Homo sapiens: one gene and its partners. The protein of the gene in region 6 purifies or fractionates together with the protein of the main gene of each other region. This does not show direct contact. Each region holds a gene or a part of one and is shown on either strand. Other genes may lie near its edges.

Region 1 (3,500 bases), on a different chromosome or scaffold from region 6:
TTATGAAAAAAACCCTGTTTTGGGGTGACTGTCAGTATTTATGAGCATCACCAGGAATAGTAAAATGTATCGATGCAATAAAATATAAATAACAGTCTAGTCATTTAATCAATCCAGTGAGGTCAGGTTATGTTTATAAGGAGAAGTGTGAGAAACCAAGCAGCCTGTGGAAGAAAGGAAAGAGTGGCTCAGGAGCCCCAGAAAATGGGTGAGGAGCTGGTAGGGGAATGCCTGCCTTTCACCGAGGAGCTCTTTGGGTGAGGTTCCAGTTACTGGAGAAATTAGTGGCCTGAAGCCGATGGCCTGCCGGTCCTAGGTCCCCTGCTTTGCCTCTCTAAGGCTTTTTGTCATTGAGTTTTATAAACATCCAGAGCAGCTTTCTTCAGTTAATACAATTTGATGTCTGCACACTGCATAAACAAAACTGTATGATGTGGTATTGTCTTCAGAAAACCTCACCCAGAATTTTCCAAAAATACAACTTTAAAGAACTTCACACAAAACTGCTTCACTCTTCTTCTGTGCTCCTGTTCTCTGTGAGCCTTATTTCATTCTCTCATCTATCGGCCAGGTGAGTGGTTTCATGACCTGGCCAACTGCTTCAAACCTAAGCTCCAAGCTTCAGACCCATGTAAATGTGTCTTTGCAAACCAAAACTTCTGGTGACTGATTTCAATTTTAAAAAAATACCAAAACCTTCTTGGTATATGAAAAATTACCCAGAACCCTAATTTAAAAAAACAGACAAAAATTACATTTCATTTGCTTTTTAATATGTATTTATGATATAACTGGCTGGTGAGACCTAGTTGGACAAACGCTGCTCGTTCGGTTCTGTTTACGGCCATCACCTATCAGCTTTGTCCACTCCTACCCCCACCCCTGCTTCTCATACACAACAAGCACAGGAATAGACCAGTCCGCAGGCAGTCATCCAGATCGCAATTTACGCTGTACTTAACCCTACAGGAGTCATGTCCCTTCTGTCTGTCAGTGAGGGAAATGGCCGTGTACTTGTGAAGGAGCTGCAAATGTGAACACTGAGTGGCAAAGTCCCAGGACTCTGTGTTATTCATGGCCCTGGCCTTTGTCCTTGGCCTCCTGCATATTAACTGGGATCTTTAGGAGAGTCTCTAAAGAAAACCGAGGCCTAGAAAATATGTCTGCAAATTGATGGCATAATACTGAGAGAGACAGAATGTGCAGCGTTATCTCATCAATTTACAATAGCATCATTGCTTCTCTTCGCTCATAATGTGGCTGTGAGGCTTATATTTTTCAGAGTTCTTTCTCATATATGAAGTGCCCTGCAAACCAAAGTTTCCTTCTGCTTGCTTGAAACACTGGCAAGATTTGCTTTTATCTCCAGATTTTATTTTACATTTGCTTTCAGAAAACAAAGTATTATTGTATTCTCATGAATTACTGCAATATCATTTCCAGCAAATGTTTGAGAGATACATTGACCTTGTCTTTCGCAGAAACTGACTGAAACTTAACTGAACATGGTATCAGTTAAAACAGTGTTTCACAAGGAAGAGGAAAAACAAAGAAAAAAATATCGTCAATGGGCAAATAGGTTAGGATATTCTGGATTAAATGCAATTAAATAGTTTTACTCTCTGCTGAACTTTTCAGGGCCATTATTTTTTAGACTAGCTTTTTGTAGTTAAAAAGGGACATTCACCTAGTAAAAAATTCAAAATATAACAAAAATTTGTATGATGAAAGTAAGTCTCTTTATCATTACAAAAGTTCTGATCTCTCGTTTTTAAGCCTTAAATATTTCATATTTTCTCTATTCACTTCTATATATGTTTCAGTATGTATATATTTTCTTTTTTCCTCTTATACATTTGGGACTAAATTATTCATTCTATTCGTACCCTATTTCATATAATAGTATTTCAAGGGTTTTTTCCTTAGGAGCAGATACAGATCTACCTCCATCATTTCAGTAACTTTGTAGATTTCATTGTATGACTGGTCTATAATTGAATCAGTCTCCTATTAAAGCTCAAGCAGATCTTTTGCAACCTTGTGCCACAACAAACACAAATCCATGTACATTTATTTGCACACACACGAGATCTTATACAGTAAGTGGAATTGCTTAGTAAGAGGATTTTTGTGTTTTTAATTGTGTTTGTTTTACCTACTGTCTTCCAAAAGAGGCTGTCTTATTTGCACTTCCACTACTAGGGTATGATAGAGTCTCTTTCCCTGCCTCCTCATTCATGCTTTTAAAATTCTTTAATATGCTGACACGCACTGTGATCCTTGCAGAGTTTAAGTTACAAAATATTTCAAGAACTTAGTAGATCACAGAGTGGTGCTATATGTTTGAGTCATGTTTTGGTTGTTTTTGTTTTGCTTTGTTTTTATGGTAAATGTGATGAAATCTTTGAAAACAGTTTGGAAATTGTTGCATTGAAAGGACAATAAATTATTTGCTTGTAGCTCTGTTGAAAACGGGGGAAAAATCACGCACCCTGAATAAGAAATTTGATAGGAAATAAATATGGGTAGAAAATTATTTTAAATAACAAGTCAAAAAACACTTTGTAAAAATTTTATTACAACAGATCTACATATTAATATTTTCATTACAAAGACGGTCTTGGAAAATGTGGAGAAATCATTTGTATTGGTGCTGTTAGAGTTTACACTTTCCATGCTAACCTGAAAGTCAGTATGTTGGGTTATCTTTTGACTGCTAATCTGCTGGAGAGCCTTAGGCAAAGTCATCTCGTTCTTCGGTTTGCAGCTAGTAATTTTATGGCTTTTCTTTTTTTATTTTTCCAGTATAGATAGAAGGGGCCTCATGCACTAGCCCAAGTTCTCTGAATTAATCTTAGATAAATTAAATACTTTGTAAATATTTTAATGATTATAATTGTAATAAAATTATTATTTTTTCTGTTCCTCAGTGGCGATAAAGTATTTAACACTTATCTGTCTTTGCAGACAAGCATGAAACTAAATTGAAAGGAGTAATATACTTTCAAGCCATTGAAGAAGTCTATTATGATCACCTCAAGAATGCTAATAAGGTAAACATCAGTTTTCTAAATTCCTACAATTTGAATGCATAATTAAGAAGGGAAAAATATTTTTGGAGTCTAAGAAGTTTGAAATTGATGTTCTGATGTAACAGATAGATATGATCAGAATGGTGCTGGAAAAGTAAACATGAAGTAAGTGGGATGGCCGTTCTCTTTGAGGAAAAAAAATATCATAGCAAATTGAGGAAATATTCTGGACATAATGGTTTGGGAAACCCTGCGAAACGACTCTGCCAGGGTTCTAAAAAGAAGCTACCATATAGTTAAGAGGGGGATCGTGAGCAAGTCCTAGTAGGGCTAAGAATAACAGCTACTATTTATTAAACTCCTACTCTCAGCTAGGTACCCTGCTAGAGCTTTACAAACTAGCTGCTGAAATAATTTATGAGTTCTGTCTGAGATTTCCTGTTCAGAAAAATGGTCAATCCTGAAAAA
Region 2 (2,573 bases), on a different chromosome or scaffold from region 6:
TGATTGTATATTTCTGAAGAAAACTTTGAACATCCCAGTTATATCAGAGAAGCCTTTGTTGTTTAATGGACTTAACTCCATTGATTCTCCAGAAAATGAAACTGCTGATAACAGTTTTTCTCAGGAAGAGGAGCCAGTGGTGGCCGGGGAAGACCTCCCTCCTCCCAGTCCTCAAGAATCTGATGTTCAGCCTGTGCAGCCTGAGGAAGTGTCAGCCAGAGATTTCCTGCAGAGACTTGACTTGCAGATTAAGTTATCAACACAGGCAGCCAAGAAGCTAAAAGAAGAGAGCAGGTAAGAATACCCTGGTACAAATGTCAAAGTCTAAATAAATCACTATTAAGATGTCCTTGCTGGGCCAAATCTTTCTTTTCTCTTTTCTTTGCCTTTTCTTTTCTTTTCTTTCTTTCTGATTTTTTTTCTTTTTTTCTTAATTTCTTTCTTTCTTAATTTCTTCCTTTCTTAATTTCTTTCTTTCTTTCTTTTTTTGCTTTAAAAACTGCATTTTAGTTCTAGAAAGGCATTTTTAGTATATAAACTCTAAACAGAGCTGCTGCCTGATGCACAAGGCTTTATCTGTTGCAGTGTTTTTATCTGTTATTTACTATAAAAAGTTTGCTTCTTTGCTTTAATAGCGTCACTGTCCAGCTAGCACTTCTGGATAGCGGCAAAATAAAAGTGTCTCTCTCACTGACACTTTCAAGAGAAGTAGTGTCATAGAAAATACTTGTAAAATATTGATAGTTGCAAAACTTGTCAAAGACATTGTCTGTTATTTGTTACTGGGTGTTTCCTACATAAGATCTCATGTGAACTTTTTTCTTTGTTTTTTAAATTTGATATTAGGGCAAATCTTTCTCTCTCCTATAGAATTGGTTTCCTTTTTTCTTTATGATTTGATTTCAAAAAAGTACAATCTACTGTGTTTCCTTTTTTGCTCTGGCTATTGGGAAGCTTGCAACTAAAATTGATACCTGTGTTCAACTCCTATAATATTTCTTATGATTAATACATTGGTTTCCTTCTCCTTTCCTTAGTCCTGATTTTTTTATTTCTATTTTATTAATCTTATTGTATATATGCCTTTTGTTGTTAGTACCTTAAATCCTTTTGGGAAAGAGGTAGAATATAGAAAACATAAACAAATATAAATATGAATATAATTTAGTATAGATTTAAAATATATGTAAATATAAGCAAATATAAATACATAAATGAATGACATTATTTATTCTAATAACTGAGATATGAATAAAATGGAGATAGTAAGGTATGTCTTAAGTATTGGCATTTCATACAGTTGTCTAGGCATGCACAATATTCTAAGTTGATATATTCCTTCTTTGGCAAGTGGATATTGTATAATAAGTTGATGTTTTAGTTTTCTGCATACAGTTCTAAACTCTGATTTATGCTGTATTTATTTTCTTTCAGAGATGAAGAAAGTCCCTATGCAACTTCCCTCTATCACAGTTAGGTGATTTGGGGGCATAACTCTAACCAAAATTAAGATATGTTTGGACCATAAAGAATCCAACAACTGAAGATTCAAAAACATCCCTTCTGGATTCCTATAGTGTCCATCTTAAAATCATAACTAGGTAGTTCTACCTGCTGCAGTTGCACTGAAGTGATTAGTTCCCTCTGGCTTTCTATAATTTTAAGTCTTTATTATGGCATGATGGCAAGGTTGTAGCCTAAAGCTCATCACTTTTGTAGGTGGTGTTAGTTTTTAGACTAGCTTTTATAAATACTAATTGACATAAAGCATCAAAGATTATTTATATATTTAGGCTAAAAATAATGTTTATCTCCTTATGCAATCCTGATTATGTGAAAATATGGTTGCTGTTTAAGTGATGCTGAATTTGCTGTGTGTTTATAACTTAAGTGCTATATATATATTTCGATATGTCTTACATATTCTCTATTAATATAAAGAACCAAATTTTGTCTGCTATTTTGTAAAAATAAACTACAAAAGCCTGAATGAGAAAATAAACTATGTTTTCAAACTTGAGTCTCCTTTTTTTTTTTAACAAATGAGAAAATAAAATTGACTTTTAAATTATACATTTAAATGCTGACAGCTTCTTCTTCACTTTAATGGTTTTTATTATTATAAATGCAATTTTGAAAAAAGTATTCATAATCTAAAAGCAAAACAAGTATAATTACTAGTAATCTTGGCATTTTCATTGACCTAATGTGATTCAGATATGGTGAAAACATGGAATAAATCAAAAGAACAAATAAATAATACCATAATCTGACATTATATTGCAGAATTCTAGTATAGATTTCATTGCTAAGTTACTTTATAAGTGTTTGGTAGTCCTGTACTTATTTGAATTGATTTTTATTCCCATAATTTAATTGGTCTTTATTATATGTATAGATTACAGTAGGACACTTTAAGCAATATATCATTTATAATTAAATATTGTTTTGGTCTCAATTTCTGTTCAACTCTTAGATTAAATAAATCTTTAGGCTTCCACAAAAATTCCTCATATCTACCCCATCCCAGCATAGCAAAAATACTTTCACTTTCTTCTTTTTGTTATTTTTTT
Region 3 (3,500 bases), on a different chromosome or scaffold from region 6:
CTCCTGCCTCAGCCTCCTGAGTAGCTGGGCTTACAGGCATGTGCCACCACACCAGGCTAATTTTGTATTTTTAGTAGAGATGGGGTTTCTCCATGTTGGTCAGGCTGGTCTCAAACTCCTGACCTCAGGTGATTCGCCTGCCTTGGCCTCCCAAAGTGCTGGGATTACAGGTGTGGGCCACCGCACCCAGCCTAATTTTTTAAATTATTTGTAGAGATGAGGTCTTGCTATGTTGCCCAGGCTGGTCTCTAGTGATCCTCCCACCTTGGCCTCTCAAACTGCTGGGACTACAGGCATGAGCTACTGCACCCGGCCATCTTTCATTTTTATCCCCATCTAGTGCGTTTACAGACAGGAAAGTTAAATTTATGGGAGGGCTTCAAAGCTCCTATTTTCACCTTCCACCGTCTGATAGAAGCACATATATTTAGTGTGCTTGAACTAGTGTGAATGAGAATAGCCCCTTAAAACAAGCACCTTGAAAATAATGTTGACTAAAATGGTGGTGCTGGAGTCTCATACTGCCACAGAAACTGAAGTGCACTTCTTAAATTTGTAGGGAGGAAAATGGATTGTTTTCTCCTAGTCTTTATCATAGATAACAGCTGAGTTAGTTATCTAGGTAGAGAGCAGAGACCAACTTCAGAAGGGAAGTGTTTACACTTAGAGACCTGGATTCTTTTTTTCTTTTTGTATTTTTTGAGAGATGAGGTCTGGCTATGTTGGAGATCTGGATTCTTTCAACTGGTTTTAACATTTCAGTTTTAGTCGATCTTGCTGTGTCATGTTAGATTGGTGAACTATAGGTGTTGACTGGAAGTCTAAAGAAAGGTGGGCATCTATTCCCAGCATTTTACATGTGGTAAACATGGCTGTTGAGCTGATCTGGAAACATCAGATGTTAATTAATTAATTTATTTATTTGCCACACAGTCTCCTTTATCATCCAGGCTGGAGTGCATTGACTCAATCTCGGCTCATTGCAACCTCTACTTTCTGGGTTCAAGTGATTCTCCTGCCTCAGCCTCCCGAGTAGCTGGGATTACAGGCATACGCCACCACGCCTGGCTAATTTTTGTATTTTTAGTAGAGATGGGGTTTCGCCATGTTGGCCAGGCTGGTTTCGAACTCCTGACCTCAGGTGATTCACCTGCGTCAGTCTCCCAAAGTGCTAAGATTACAGGCATGAGCCATGGTGCCCAGCAAGGAAACATCAGTTTTAGAAAGGTCTCAGGTCATGTATACCTGTGGTATCCTGCTTCAGTTGACCACTGTCAGATGGCAAGAGTATGAATAGCTCCTCATGGTCTCTTTATGGAATCCCTGAAAGCCTTCCCATGGCTGGGATGCAGCCACATGTTAGTATGGGCCAGGTGGGTTTTGAGGAGGCCAAAGGCAGTTACACAGGGCAGGCAGACATCAACTGGCTCATTTCCCTTTTTTTGTAGATTTTTTTTTTTTTTTTTGAGGCAGGGTCTCGCTCTGTTGCTCAGGCTGGAGTGCAATGGCATGATCACAGCTCACCGCCACCTCAACTTCCTGGGCTCAGTCAATCCTCCCACCTCAGCTTCCTGAGTAGCTGGGACTATAGGTGTGTGCCATCATGCTTGGCTCATTTTCTTATTTTTTGTAGAGATGGGGTCTCACAATGTTTCCTAGGCTGGTCTTGAATTCCTGGGCTCAAGTATTTCTTCCACCTCAGCCTTCCAAAGTGCTGGGATTATAGTCATGAGCCACCATGCCCAGCTGATTTTTTTTTTAACTATTTTATAGAGATGGGATCTTGCTGTGTTGTCTAGGCTGGTCTCCAACTCCTAGCCTCAAGTGATCCTCCTGCCTCAAAGTGATCCAAAGTGCTGGGATTGCAGGCAGGAGCCACCATTGTCAGCCTCCCATGGATTTTGGAGGTGTGTTTTTTATCCTGGTTTAGTCCATGACCCAAGCATTAACTGGTTGTCTAGCTTTCCTGTGTTACCTAGTTTGATCCTCACAGCATCTCTGGCAAGTGGCTAGAGCAGGTGATCATCTACCTTCCCATTTTGTGAGTGAGCCCTGAGTCCCTGGGATGTTTGGTGGCCTACCCTGGCTGCAGGGCTTAGGGTGTGCAGTGGAGTAGCCTGACTTATCAGATGTCCTCGCCTGATCCTAGACACACATGTCCATGCTGCTGCTGCCTTTCCCCATTGTAGCTGTTGCATTTCTTCCCTGGGTAGAGTGAAGGAATGTTCTGTTGGATTCCTACCAGATTGCAATGTTAGGGGACAGAGCTGAAAGGTGCATGGTGCTGTGTAGGGCCAGAGAATTGTGGCATGCTCTGGGCCGGGCTTGATCAACTTACTGTTCCATTTAATCTGTAAACTTGCTTTTCTGTAGATTTGAGTACACCTCCTTTGTAAAAGGTATTTATAAACCCAGTTGTTAGTGTCATTGTTCTCCAGAACGTCCTTTGTTTTGACAATATCTTTTGGAGAAGAACACACTAAGCTAGTCTAATAAGGAAAGTTTCATGTCAAGATTTCACAGAATATTTATATATACCTACTATGTTCCAGGCCCTATACTAGGTATAGGGAGAACAGATGTAAAGCCAGCACAGATCAGCTTTGTCCTCAGGAAGCCTGTGGCCCATTCAGTAGAGAGTGGACTGAAAGTCTTTCTGCAAGAGGAGGCAGAGCCTGGGAACAGTTGGGAGGAATGAGTAGGAGTTCCCCAGTAGGCGAGACCTGTTAGACCTATGAGTCTGATGGGTAACTAGCTTGACTTCTGGGTGCTAGGCTTTCTGGGCACTCCTCAAGTATAAGAGAGCTCTGTGGAGTAGGAGGGGCTGTGTTTGAGCTAAGAGCTTGGCACAGACTGATGGGCTTCAACTGCATTTTGCCGAGTCACCAGAGCTGTGAACTCGGGGAGCGGGTCTGGTGGGGTGAGGAGACATCAGAGCACTGCCAGTGGTGCCAGGAGATAAGGGGCATCCAGGTCTGTCTTTCTAGGAAGCGAAGGAGGGCCTGAAGCTGAGGGTCCCTGGGGAGGAGCAATGTCTGCAGGCAGAGTTCATGGACCTGTGGGTGTCCCTGGCTCTTAGTGATGACACATGGAGGGTGTGGCTGGCTAGGCTGACAGATGCTCCAGTGTGACCCTCAAAATAGACTGTAACATCATCCCAGCGGCGGAGGCCTCCTGACATGTGATGGTTGCTTTACCCAAGAGTAGTAGGCCTGGGCTAGAGCACTGGAAGGCATGGAGAGGGGTGGGGGCATTTTCCTCTGTAGCCAGTGTCTGGGCCCAGGCCCAGAGCAGGGGTCTCTGACCACAGCCAGCCTTCCCTTGCTCCTGCAGCTGACTTCCTTTGGCCAGGCAGCAGTGCACTCATTCATTCATTCCAGACACCAGGGCGCAGTACCCATTGTTTTTTTTTTTTGGTTGTTGTTGTTGTTGTTGTTTTTGAAACAGAGTCTCGCTCTGTTGCCAGGCTGGAGTGCAGTGGCACAATCTTGGCTCACTGC
Region 4 (2,319 bases), on a different chromosome or scaffold from region 6:
CCACAAACAACTCTGTTTTCCTGCTGAGTCACTTTAAGTTATAATCAGCCTGCTCTTTTTGCTTTCTTTAAATTTCCACAAAACACCTCCTGTGTATAAAACAAAATGGGAAAGAAGGAAGGGCATGTGTGAGCTTAAAAATTAACTTAAAATTACTAGAATTTGCCTTCAAATAAGTATGTGAGGTTAGCTTAATGACCAGGCATGATTATCCTTGAAAAATGTCTTTCCCCTTGCCCACCCCAAATCGACTTGACAAAGGACAGGGTAAGACTCCATGAGGGAGGTTCCATGTCCAGCCACAGTGGAGAAGAGTGGGCTGGCAGAGCCCAGGGAGTCAGTCCAGGACAACAGAGTCAAAGCCAGCCTGGCCCCTGCTGTCAAAATTTATCCACCCAGTCTGCCCCCTCCTTCCTGTCTGAGAGCCCTGCCATGTTGAGAGTTAAGAAGGGATGAAGTTCTGGATTCTGGGCTGCACCTTATCAAAGCCAATTGAGTCTGGTGTAAAAATATTCAGAAACTGTACCCGCTTCTTGAGTAGAGAGAGAGCCATATTCAGGAACAACAGAAGCCAGGGCCAGGATCCTAGTCCAGTGTTCTTCCCACCAGACCACTCACCTCCAGCCGTTTTTTCCTGTAAGGTTGAGATTTTAAAATGACGATATGTGTTCCCAGGATTCTGGAAGTGTATCCCACCCAGACAGTGTGGGGAAGCAGTAGTTAGATAATCCAAGATAAAACTGGCTTTGGGTCCTAGCGCATCTGGTGTCTGGCAGCATTCCTGCCCAGTGCATTAACTGAAACAGGAAGGTGGCGTGGCTTTCTGGGCACATACAGCAGGGAAGAAGCATGACTATACAGTAGAAAGAGCCCTGGACTTAGGGCCAGGCTGCCTTGGTTGTGAGTCCTGAATGCTGCCACTGTGGTGTAGCTGAGCAAGTTGTTCATCTCTAAGCCTCAGTTACCTCATCTGTACAGTGGGGGTGAGAACAGTCAGGGTCATAGGTTGTTAACAGTTAAGGATTGAATCAACATAATGTATGTGAAAGGGCTTAGTCCATGATTGGGTGCTTAATAAATGCCCGTGTTGCTGGGGTGAGCCAAAGGGATGAAGTTGGCAGTGCTTGCTCTGTCGTGGAGCAGTCCCCACGTGGGAAGGCCAGCGGGAAACCAGGCCTGCTGAAGTCTCCAGCGCTGGAAGCCTCACGGGGGTTAGGAAGGAGCCTTGGGAGCAGCTCCTCAGAGCACAGTTGTACCTCAATTGTGGATTTTAGATGTTTCTGCTTCTCAATGTTCTCTCTTTTTTCCTGCCTGCTTGCCTGCCTTTTGGACCTCTTGCTGTCTAGGGTGGCAGATGAAGCTTTCTACAAACAACCCTTCGCTGACGTGATTGGTTATGTGTATGTTGCAAAACTAATTCCTTTTTCTACATCTGATTCTTTCTACTTTTGTTTAGAGTTAATGCTCCTTTTATGTCACAAGTTGCTTTGCTTTTTAAATTATTTCAAATTGGCACTTTGGGGGCTGCCTAAGAATTGATAAGCGGGGTATGATCTGTTGATGAATCTTCCAGATTTGTGACTCCCTGCATCCTCTGATGGCCATTTTTCATATTTGGGGTTTTGGAGGGAAGAAAGCTAACTCGCTTTCAAAATGTGTCATTTGCGATCTTATCTGGGAACGGTTTGAGGCTCGGGGGAACTCTGCTCTCTTGCTCTTGGCTGCCATCACTGCTGCCATGCCCTGTTGCCTGCCTGCCTCAGGTGGGAAGGAGGTTTCCCCACCTGGGAGCAGGTGGCAGTCCCAGGAGGTTAGGAGCCAGTGAGCAGCAGCACCTTGCATTGCCAAAATCAGAGCTGTGGGGCAGCATTTTCCATACTTGGTTCATTCAAACAATGTGGGGTCGTTTGCCTCTCCCTCAGGCAGAAGAGTCCAGAGCAGAGGGGGTTGTCTCCAGTGGGTGTCTATAATTGTTCCTCTGTGGTCTTGCATGTCAGAAATTGCTATTTAGTGGTCAGCTTCTGATGTCCTGTCTCCTAGCACAGGGAAGCCCCCAGCTTTGAGATCAGGATAGTCAAAGTGTCTTGATACGGGCCACTTGGGCTTCTCCCCCTGACCCCCCCAAAAGAAACCTGCATCTTCTCTGGAGAAGGTGTTTTTCTTATTCTTTTTTTTTTCTTTTTTTCTTTTTTCTTTTTTTTAAGGATTTCTTTTATCAAAGCAGTATTGCTGAAGAGTTGGAAACAGTTCTCATTGTCTCCTCCTTAAAAATTAGGGCTGGCTTTACATGAGAAGTAAGGGTGGAATGGAAGAGGAGAG
Region 5 (3,500 bases), on a different chromosome or scaffold from region 6:
AACCCATCTCTACTAAAAAATACAAAAAATTAGCCGGGCATGTTGGCATGCCCCTGTAGTCGCAGCTACTCAGGAGGCTAAGGCAGGGGAATCACTTGAACCTGGGAGATGGAAGTTGCAGTGAGCTGAGATCACGCCACTGCACTCCAGCCTGGCGACAGAGCAAGACTCCATCTCAAAAAAAAAAAAAAAAAAAAAAGAAATGGGGATCACTGGGCGCGGTGGCTCATGCCTGTAATCCCAGCACTTTGGGAGGCCAAGAGAGCCAGATCACGAGGTCAGGAGTTCGAGACCAGCCTGGCCAATGTGGTGAAACCCCGTCTTTACTAAAAATACAAAAATTAGCCAGGTGTAGTGGTGCACGCCTGTAATCCCAGCTACTCGGGAGGCTGAGGCAGGAGAATCACTTGAACCCAGGAGGTGGAGGTTGCAGTGAGCCAAGATTGCGCTACTGCACTCCAGGCTGGGTGACAGAGCAAGACTCTGTCTCACCAAAAAAAAAAAAAAAAAAAAAAAGAAGTGGGGATCACCACTCTTCCAGTAGGTTGCCAGATGCAGAGAGTAAACAGGGAACAGTATGCTCACGAGCTTGCCATCTAGCGGGAAACATGTCAACTAAACAACCTGTTAAAGGAAGTTTATTGTTTGAATTTTGTTTGTTTTGAGACGGAATCTCACTCTGTTGCCCAGGCTGGAGTGCAGTGGCACAGTCTTGGCTCACTGCAACCTCCGTCTCCCAGGTTCAAGCAAGTCTCCTGCCTCCGCCTCCTGAGTAACTGGGACTACAAGCGCGTACCACCACGCCTGGCTAATTTTTGGGTTTTTTTGTTTGTTTGTTTGTTTTTTGAGACAGTCTCACTCTGTTGCCCAGGCTGGAGTGCAATGGCGCGATCTCGGTTCTCTGCAACCTCCCCGTCCCGTGTTCAAGCAATTCTCCTGCCTCAGCCTCCCAAGTAGCTGGGATTACAGGTGCCCGCCAACATGCCCTGCTAATTTTTTGTATTTTTAGTAGAGACGGGTTTTCGCCATATTGGCCAGGCTGGTCTCAAACTCCTGACCTCAGGTGATCCACCCACCTCAGCCTCCCAAAGTGTTGGGATTGCAGGCATAAGCCACCACACCCGATCTGAATTTTAAAATTAATTTTAAAAGCCACAATTTTAGAAGTTGAATAAGGAATGGGAGGGTGTCTTAAATTTGTTTAAAAAGCAATGGGCTTGTTTTGCCTCCAAAGAATGTCTCAGAGTGGCTCATCTGTGGTCCTTTAGTAGACCACCTGAGGCCCTGGAGCTTCTGACCTCATCTCTCTGGGAAAGTAGGTGCCAGGACCTGGGTTTCCAGCTTTCAGCTCCAGCAGAGGTGGCAAGCTTGCCTCTCTCCTAAGGTCCCTGGTAAAGAACAGTACCGTTCTGACTGCTTTTGACAAGGCGTCAAGCTCTTGGAGGGGGTGTCACAGGGGCTACTGGCAACTGCTTTGCACTCAGAATGGTCCACAGACCTACAGAAGCGACTCACTGTTCTAGATGTTATCAAGCATCTGTTGACAGTTCTGAGAACTGGAGCAGAAACTTCGCTCTTCCCAGGTTGATTGTCTGTGGTCTCTGAAAGATAGAGAGGCAGGCAGACAGGCAGGTGAGTAGGTATTGATTTATATATTAGATGTTTCGGCCATGGTACCTTCTCTGAATTGCTGATCCTAGTGAGCTCAAGACACAGTTTGTCACTTTAGTATATAGAATACTCCAGGAGCACATGGACGCTTTTTAGAAGTCAGGCTGAGACCCCACGGGCCCGCCATCACCCAGCAAGTCTAGGTTAGACTATGAGATCCTATATTTTTCTCGAGTGGTCCTTAGAACCCCCTGATGCTTAACAGGGAGGCCCCGTGGGTGGTCAGAGAATGCTATCTGTTACTGACCCTCTTCATCTGTGTGCAGGAACAGTTTCTGGTCCCAGATCACACGATCAAAGACATCAGTGGTGCTTCTTTTGCCGGGTTCTACTACATCTGCTTTCAGAAGTCAGCAGCCTCCATAGAGGGCTACTACTACCATAGGAGTTCAGAATGGTGAGGACCTCTGAGGACAGAGGCCACGGGGAGGGCTTGCTGCCCAGCTGGCTCTCCCTTGGCTCATCAAACCCAAAAGCAACATCTTAGCCTGTCTCTGTATAGATTCTGTGCTTTATTTGGATGCTGAGAGCTTATTTCAGTGATCTCAGTTGCTCACAATAAGGCCTTATCCCTATGCACAGAGCAGAGTAAATGAGATGAAAATGAATTATAGGTGAAAGAACTCATTTCTAAGCACTTTTAAGCAATACTGTATTTTTGGCAATGTTTATCTCAATCTTGCTGGTTTTTATTTAATCCTTGCAAATTGAATTAGTAACTAAAATGTGAATTGATCCAGTACTGGACAATGTGAATTTTGCTGTCAGCAGCTTTTTAAATTTTGTGGCTGCATTCCTTAGAGTTGGTCCGACATGCACTTGATTTAAGGCTCATGACCTGGGGGCCTGTGAGTGGACAGTCCTGTCCAGTGTGTCACCAATAGTAAAGGACTGAACTCTGCCTGAATGCTAACTTTTGCCACCTTTTGAGGGATTCTCCTGCCTCCTTGCTGCTTTTTAAGCACCTTGCTGTCCCCGGAGGGCAAACCATGTGATAAAATGCCTGATTTCCTCTCTGAAGGTAAAAATTCTTTCTTTCCAGTATTTAACACTTTGTTATATGTGAAGTGATCCTACCCTAGATTCCTTGTTCAGTGGTAACGAAATTATATCTGCAAGTAAATGCCAGCCCTGTAGCCACGATTTTTAGGCTTTCAGTAATGGTTTTCACGCAAGTTTGTAAAACTTTTATAATCCTTTTTAAAAATAACAGCTGGCCGGGCACAGTGGCTCACGCATGTAATCCCAGCACTTTGGGAGGCCGAGGCGGGTGGATCACGAGGTCAGGAGATCGAGACCATCCTGGCTAACACGGTGAAACCCCGTCTCTACTAAAAAACAAAAAATTAGCCAGGCATGGTGACAGGCACCTGTAGTCCCAGCTACTCGGGAGTCTGAGGCAGGAGAATGGCGTGAACCTGGGAGGTGGAGCTTGCAGGGAGCTGAGATCGGGCCATTGCACTCCAGCCTGGGCGACAGAGCGAGACACCATCTCAAAAATAAATAAATAAATAAATAAATAAATAAATAAATAAATAAATAACAGCTTTGGTCCGGGCACAGTAGCTCACGCCTGTAATCCCAGCACTTTGGGAGGCCGAGGTGGGCAGATCACGAGGTCAGGAGTTCGACACCAGCCTGGCCAATATGGTGAAACCCCGTCTCTATTAAAAATACAAAAATTAGCCAGGCGTGCTGGTACGCACCTGTAGTTCCAGCTACTCAGGAGGCTGAGGCAGGAGAATCACTTGAACCTCGGAGGCGGAGGTTGCGGTGGGCCGAGATTGCACCACTGCACTCCAGCCTGGGCGACAGAGTGAGACTGCATC
Region 6 (2,181 bases):
TGGTCAGTAGTTCAAAGAGCTTTGGTCATGGGGGGAAGTACTTTTCCCTCTCCCATTCTTTCTCTTTTTTTTTTTCTTTTTTGAGACGGAGTCTCGCTCTGTTGCCCAGGCTGGAGTGCAGTGGCACAATCTTGGCTCACTGCAACCTCCGCCTCCCGGATTCAAGCGATTCTCCTGCCTCAGCCTCCCAAGAAGCTGGGACTATAGGTGCATGCCACCATGCCCAGCTAATTTTTTGTATTTTTAGTAGAGATGGGGTTTCACCGTGTTAGCCAGGATGGTCTTGATTTCCTGACATCGTGATCCACTCGACTCGGCCTCCCAAAGTTCTGGGATTACAGGCGTGAGCCATTGTACCCAGCCCCTCTCCCCATTCTTATCACTCCTCCCTGCCCTGTCAGCCCCCCTTTCTGCTTTGCTCATGTCCTCTTACTCCTGCTTTCCTCCTTCTGCCCCCTGTTCCCCAGGCAAGCCAGGAAGCAGACAATGTTCTGATCCTGCAGGACAGGAAGCTGGTAACCGGGCCAGGGAAACGGTATCTGCAGGTGTCCAAGAACCGCTTTGATGGAGATGTAGGTGTCTTCCCGCTTGAGTTCAACAAGAACTCCCTCACCTTCTCCATTCCACCAAAGAACAAGGCCCGGCTCAAGAAGATCAAGGATGACACTGGACCAGTGGCCAAAAAGCCCTCTTCTGGCAAAAAGGGGGCTACGACACAGAACTCTGAGATTTGCTCAGGCCAGGCCCCCACTCCCGACCAGCCAGACACCTCCAAGCGTTCAAAGTGAAGGCCGTGCAGAGCTGGTCACTGAAATGAGCCTGATAGGATAGGCTGGAGCATAAAACTCTGCAAGGGCTCCTCTATCCTGTGGTCCTGAGCTGTGTGCCCTTCTCAGTCTGAGGGGCCTAACCTAGAGCAGGTTTCCATAGTGAGAAAATTCAATGTAGCAGACTACTGAGAAACTACTGTGTTGCTCAGGCTTTGTTTGAGGTCCTGTATATACAGCACTGAAAAGAGAGATAAAGTCCCTGCCTGCATGCATTCTGGCGGAAGAGACAAGCAAGCAATGAACAAATTAGCAGAAAACCTAGTTTTAGTGAAAAATGCTGTAAAGAAAATAGAAATGCGATAGAGTGCTGGCAGGCTAGTGTAGATAAGTGGTCTGAAAAGGTGTCTCTGAGCCGAGGGCATGTGAGCTGGGGCCTAAACAACTAGAAGGAGAGAGCCACGTGAACATCCGGCGAAGGGGACCCAGGCAGAGAGAAAAGGAAATCCAAGCCCTGAGGTAGGAATGAGCAGGTCAGATTCAAGGCAGTGAGGTCAGGCCGCATGAACCTGGAGGGGAATCGGGGACTTCATGCGAAACTCCAGCCTAGGCTTTCAAAGTCAAAGGGTGATACAGTGGGTACCAAGCTCCTCTGCTCCCCACTTTGTAGAGCCTAGCATGAGGTGGCATGTACTAGAATTGGATCCTAGGTGCTTAGCCCTGCAATATCAGGGCCTCACTGGTGGGAGCTGCCTCGGGCTGGGTTGCTTGGTCATAGAGCCATAGAAGGAAGCTGTCAGCCCGGAGTGCCTGCCACCTAGACACTGATGCCATTGTGTGCTGCCTCAAGACTGCTGGAGTCAGGACATTTTATAGAGCCTTTTCCAGTTTTACTAAAAAATTTTTCCATTGCCTTTGTTTCTGTGCTTTTTCTTATTCATCCACCAGGTGTCTCCCCAGTCCGTAGCTGAATTTCCCTTTCGGGATTGGGAATGGACGGGTCCCCTCCCACTGCTTGCAGCCTTTGAGCGGTGGGCTTCCAAGGAAGCAGGGACATTAAAGGGCCTTCACACCCCACCTTCCATTTACATCTCTTCTTGGCCTAGGGAAGACAAGATGATCTGTCCTCATACCTAACTTCCCTGAGGATCTCGAGTGATTCCTGGCACAGGTACTCATCACTGGGCCACATGAGCCCAGTGCCCTGCCTGACTGGCCATTCCTCTGTGATGTGAGCCACTCACCTCTCAAGTGGACTTAGACTCAACATATTCTGTCCACCCCCATCCATCTCCCTCCTGTACCCTCTCCGTGTTTCTCATATGCTAATGCGTGCCAGAACTCCTGGGGACTTGTGAAAAATGCAGAAACTAGGCCCCATTCTCCCCCCATCCTCCACCACGTACATTTCTCA
Region 7 (3,500 bases), on a different chromosome or scaffold from region 6:
AGTGTCTCTGGGAATGAAATAAGTGGGCAGCCTACTAGAGTATTATTTCATGTATTTTTATATGTGATAGAAAGTTCTAGGCCCGGTAGCCAAAACCTGGCAATTGATAGTCATGGCTTCTCATTCAGTTTCCAGACCCTAAGTCAATTCACAGACCCAGAATCCCTGGGTGGCCGGGTCCCCTTGAGGAAGGAGCCTGCATCATTGCCATAAATACTTATTGTAAATCTTCCTCCAAACCTTCCTCCAAAGGGACCTGTGACCATTTACCAAAATAATAGGGAAATGGACATACCCAGACAGTTCTGGAGTTACTTGGCACTAACTCTGAACTGATGCTGTTTCCTGGGGATCTAAAATGCCACTCTGGCTCATAAGTCAAAGTGGGGCTTGTGATGGTCAGGGATAGAGTCTTAGCTGTAGTCTGACTCTCAGTAGATTTGCTTGGTCCATGCCCACCCCGAAGTTATTTTCTGAGCTCCTGAATAAACAATTAGAGTAAGCACACTTGGTAATTATCCATTTTCTTCTCTCTTCTTCCCATTTTTGTTTTATATGCAAGTTTTTGGAAGTCGACTTTATAGTCTTTAGGTGACAGAATGTTCCATGGAACTGTGATCGGTATTTAAGTCCTAATAAATATAGTCCATGACGACTCCTGGGCCTATTAGTCTCCTTGTTTTGGGGAGTGAGTGAGAACTTACAAGGATGATAGCTGCATCTTTTTAGATAGAAATACGCAGTTGTGTTGTTGTACAGGACTTCAGTGGTGTGCAGGAGGATTCATATGGAAGCTAAGTAGTCAAAGAGATGGGCTTTTCTGGTTATCAATTATTGCTTTTCTGTGTCCAATCACCCTTCTTGCCTGCCTGGTGAAAATGGATCTGGGCCCTTTAAATTTTCTCCCTGTCCAGGCAGCAAGCTGGGCTTTGCCAGTAGAGGGCGCCGAGGAGCCTCTGCAGCAGGGACCTTCTGCTTCCTGGTTGCCACGTGCTCACAGGGCCTGCTCCTGCAGCACGTGCCGCTCAGTGCTGGCTGCTGCCGTGCTCAGCAGAGGCCAGCAGCACCTTATTTTAGGCAGTTTTGTAGTGGGTGCCTCTGGTGAGACACCTCCTGTGAGCAGCTTTTGTGGCACCCTGCGGGGCAGATTTCTGGTAAGTTCTACAGGTTGGCTTTCTTGCAAGTTCTGCTGGTGTGCACCAGACCAACTTTTTTTCTCCCCCAATGTAGTGAGGCACAGCCATACCCTCTTCAGCAAGGCCTGGATATCAGCCCTCAGGGGTGTTTGTGGGAGGATGCTTGTTTCTGGGTGGAGGCTCCTCCTTGGGCACTCTGTCAGCTCAGGTTGAAGAACTGTTCTTTAGGGGCTCTGCCATAACGCTGGAGTAGAAGCCTCTTCCTTGAGGGCTGGATGTCAGCCCTAGAGAAGGTGCGTTTGCTTGATACTCTAGCTCAGCACTGGGTGGGGTGGGGGACTTTTGCTTCTGAGGGTCTCTTTCAGCCCTGGGGGGCAGCAGCTGCTCCTTTTGTCTCCTAAACCTATATTCTTCAGAGTTCCCTTTACTTTCTAGCCAGTTTCTTGTTAATTCCACCTCCCATTATGGTTAATAATCCTTTATATGAAACTTACCTATTCAAATGACTGCGCAGCTTCCCCCTCCTAATAGGATGCAGAGTGATGCCCATTGTGCATACTGGCCACAGTTTGTCCACAGTTTTCCTGTGGACATTTCCAATTTGGGGCTATTATGAATAATCTGTGATGTGTATTCTTGAGTGGATGGGCTTTTTTGTGTTATGCGTTTTCATATCTCTTGGATAAATACCTCGAATGAGGTTCCTTTGGGAAGGCCAGGCCACAGGGCTTTCAATTTGTCTAGAGGGTGCTGAGGAGCTGCTGGAAGTTTTGTGGGTCTATTTTAAGTAACACTGATGGATTCGATGTGGGTCTTAGAAGGAGTGAATGGGAGGGGAGATGCCAGTCTTCAATTCCCCAGATGAGGGTGGCAGCTCAAACTGGTGACTTGGTGTGGGACTTTGCTCCATTGTCTTTTTCCTAAACTGTGAAATGGGTTTTTCACAGGCGTGCATAGGATCGTTGGCAGGACTGAGTGGGATGAAGCATGAGGGGCACTTGGCATGGGGCTGGCATGGAGCAGATGCACAGTGGTTGCAGCCAACAGGACTGCCATTTTTAGGTGTTTCAGGCAGGATGTCCTAGCTTCCCCCTGGTGCTAGCCATTATGTGTTCACAGTCCAAGAGCCCAGGGGGGTGGCAAAGGGTCTTGGTGCCCTGCTTAGAGACAACTCTGGACCTAGAAGGTGGGGCACAGCTGCCCGTTGCTGTGCAGTGCTGGGCACTTTCTGATGCCTTCTTGTGGCATCCCTCAGAGGAGTGGGTGGACAAGGTGGCCTTGGGTTCTGGGCACTTTGCCCAGCCCCCTGACAATCACCTCAGCTGGCATCTTGCCTGTCCAAGCCCCGAGCTGCTGTGCCCCAGCAAGTCAAGCGGCCATGATTAGTCAAATAAAATTTCCATCTGTTGAAGAATTTACGAGAGTTATTACTGGCTATAAAACCGATCTGAGGAGAAAGATGGATCCGAGGGGGTAAGTGCCTCTAATTATGTGCGGCAGTGACGTTTAAATAAGGTAGCACAAGTCCTTATTGGAGGGAGCCAGGTCCCTATCCCTCTCTGGGCCCAGAATGTGGCCAGACTGGTGGGGGTGGGTGCTTCACTGCAGAGGGAGGAAAGAGGAGCTACCCTATGCAAACTCGGGGACAGGGGTCATTGCGGCTTAATTTTTTTTTTTTTTTTTTTTTGGTAGAGACAAGGTCTTGCTATGTTGCCCAGGCTGGTCTCAAACTCCTGGGCTCAAGCAGCCCTCCCGGCCTCCCAAAGTGCTGGGATTACAGGTGTGAGCCACTGTGCTTGGCCACTGTGGCATTTAGAAAGATCTTAGATGCCAAAGGGCCTAGCGCAGTGCCTGGCATGCAGCAGTGACTTAATAAATGCATGTTTCTGCTTTACCTGCTTCCCTCCTACCTCCGGGGACTGAGCTGGGCCGCTTACAGGATGCAGGAAGTGGTCTCCCTGGGCCAGGCTCTTGTTGGCACAGACTCTGTGTGATCCGCCCAGGTAATCTTGCTGGGTCTTCATAGCTTCGACTTTAAAGTGGGACAATTAATTACCGAAGGAACACGGGGAAGGCAGGCTTTTGGGTATGTGGGCCCAAACTTGTTCTGTTTTTTTTTTGGGACTGAGTCTCGCTGTTTCACCTAGGCTGGAGTGCAGTGGTGTGATCTTAGCTCACTGTAACCTCTGCCTCTTGGGTTCAAGTGATTCTCCTGCCTCAGCCTCCCAAGTAGCTGGGATTACAGGCACCCACCACCACGCCCAGCTAATTTTTGTATTTTTAGTAGAGACGGGGTTTCACCATGTTGGCCAGGCTTGTCTCGAACTCCCGACCTCAGGTGGTCCGCCCTCCTCGGCCTCTCAA

Evidence for each region.
Region 1: the proteins of TWNK (region 6) and PHLDB2 purify together in Homo sapiens (affinity purification with mass spectrometry; one large-scale study listed by BioGRID and IntAct). This does not show direct contact.
Region 2: the proteins of TWNK (region 6) and LYSMD2 purify together in Homo sapiens (affinity purification with mass spectrometry; one large-scale study listed by BioGRID and IntAct). This does not show direct contact.
Region 3: the proteins of TWNK (region 6) and RANBP10 purify together in Homo sapiens (co-immunoprecipitation; one large-scale study listed by IntAct). This does not show direct contact.
Region 4: the proteins of TWNK (region 6) and CLTA purify together in Homo sapiens (affinity purification with mass spectrometry; one large-scale study listed by BioGRID and IntAct). This does not show direct contact.
Region 5: the proteins of TWNK (region 6) and GID4 purify together in Homo sapiens (co-immunoprecipitation; one large-scale study listed by IntAct). This does not show direct contact.
Region 7: the proteins of TWNK (region 6) and ACTL8 purify together in Homo sapiens (affinity purification with mass spectrometry; one large-scale study listed by BioGRID and IntAct). This does not show direct contact.

What each region holds. Positions count from the first base shown.
Region 1 is NC_000003.12:111,970,765-111,974,264, forward strand, and holds part of PHLDB2 (pleckstrin homology-like domain family B member 2), read left to right. Parts: intron 1-2,967; coding exon 2,968-3,053; intron 3,054-3,500. UniProt on the Homo sapiens protein: Seems to be involved in the assembly of the postsynaptic apparatus. May play a role in acetyl-choline receptor (AChR) aggregation in the postsynaptic membrane.
Region 2 is NC_000015.10:51,722,511-51,725,083, reverse strand, and holds the end of LYSMD2 (lysM and putative peptidoglycan-binding domain-containing protein 2), read left to right. Parts: coding exon 1-294; intron 295-1,434; coding exon 1,435-1,477; 3' UTR 1,478-2,073; downstream 2,074-2,573.
Region 3 is NC_000016.10:67,800,061-67,803,560, reverse strand, and holds part of RANBP10 (ran-binding protein 10), read left to right. Parts: intron 1-3,500. UniProt on the Homo sapiens protein: May act as an adapter protein to couple membrane receptors to intracellular signaling pathways.
Region 4 is NC_000009.12:36,207,921-36,210,239, forward strand, and holds part of CLTA (clathrin light chain A), read left to right. Parts: exon of another isoform or gene 1-634; intron 635-1,346; coding exon of another isoform or gene 1,347-1,400; intron 1,401-2,319. UniProt on the Homo sapiens protein: Clathrin is the major protein of the polyhedral coat of coated pits and vesicles.
Region 5 is NC_000017.11:18,059,908-18,063,407, forward strand, and holds part of GID4 (glucose-induced degradation protein 4 homolog), read left to right. Parts: intron 1-1,937; coding exon 1,938-2,068; intron 2,069-3,500.
Region 6 is NC_000010.11:100,992,723-100,994,903, forward strand, and holds the end of TWNK (twinkle mtDNA helicase), read left to right. Parts: intron 1-467; coding exon 468-788; 3' UTR 789-1,681; downstream 1,682-2,181.
Region 7 is NC_000001.11:17,758,333-17,761,832, forward strand, and holds part of ACTL8 (actin-like protein 8), read left to right. Parts: intron 1-996; exon of another isoform or gene 997-1,154; intron 1,155-3,500.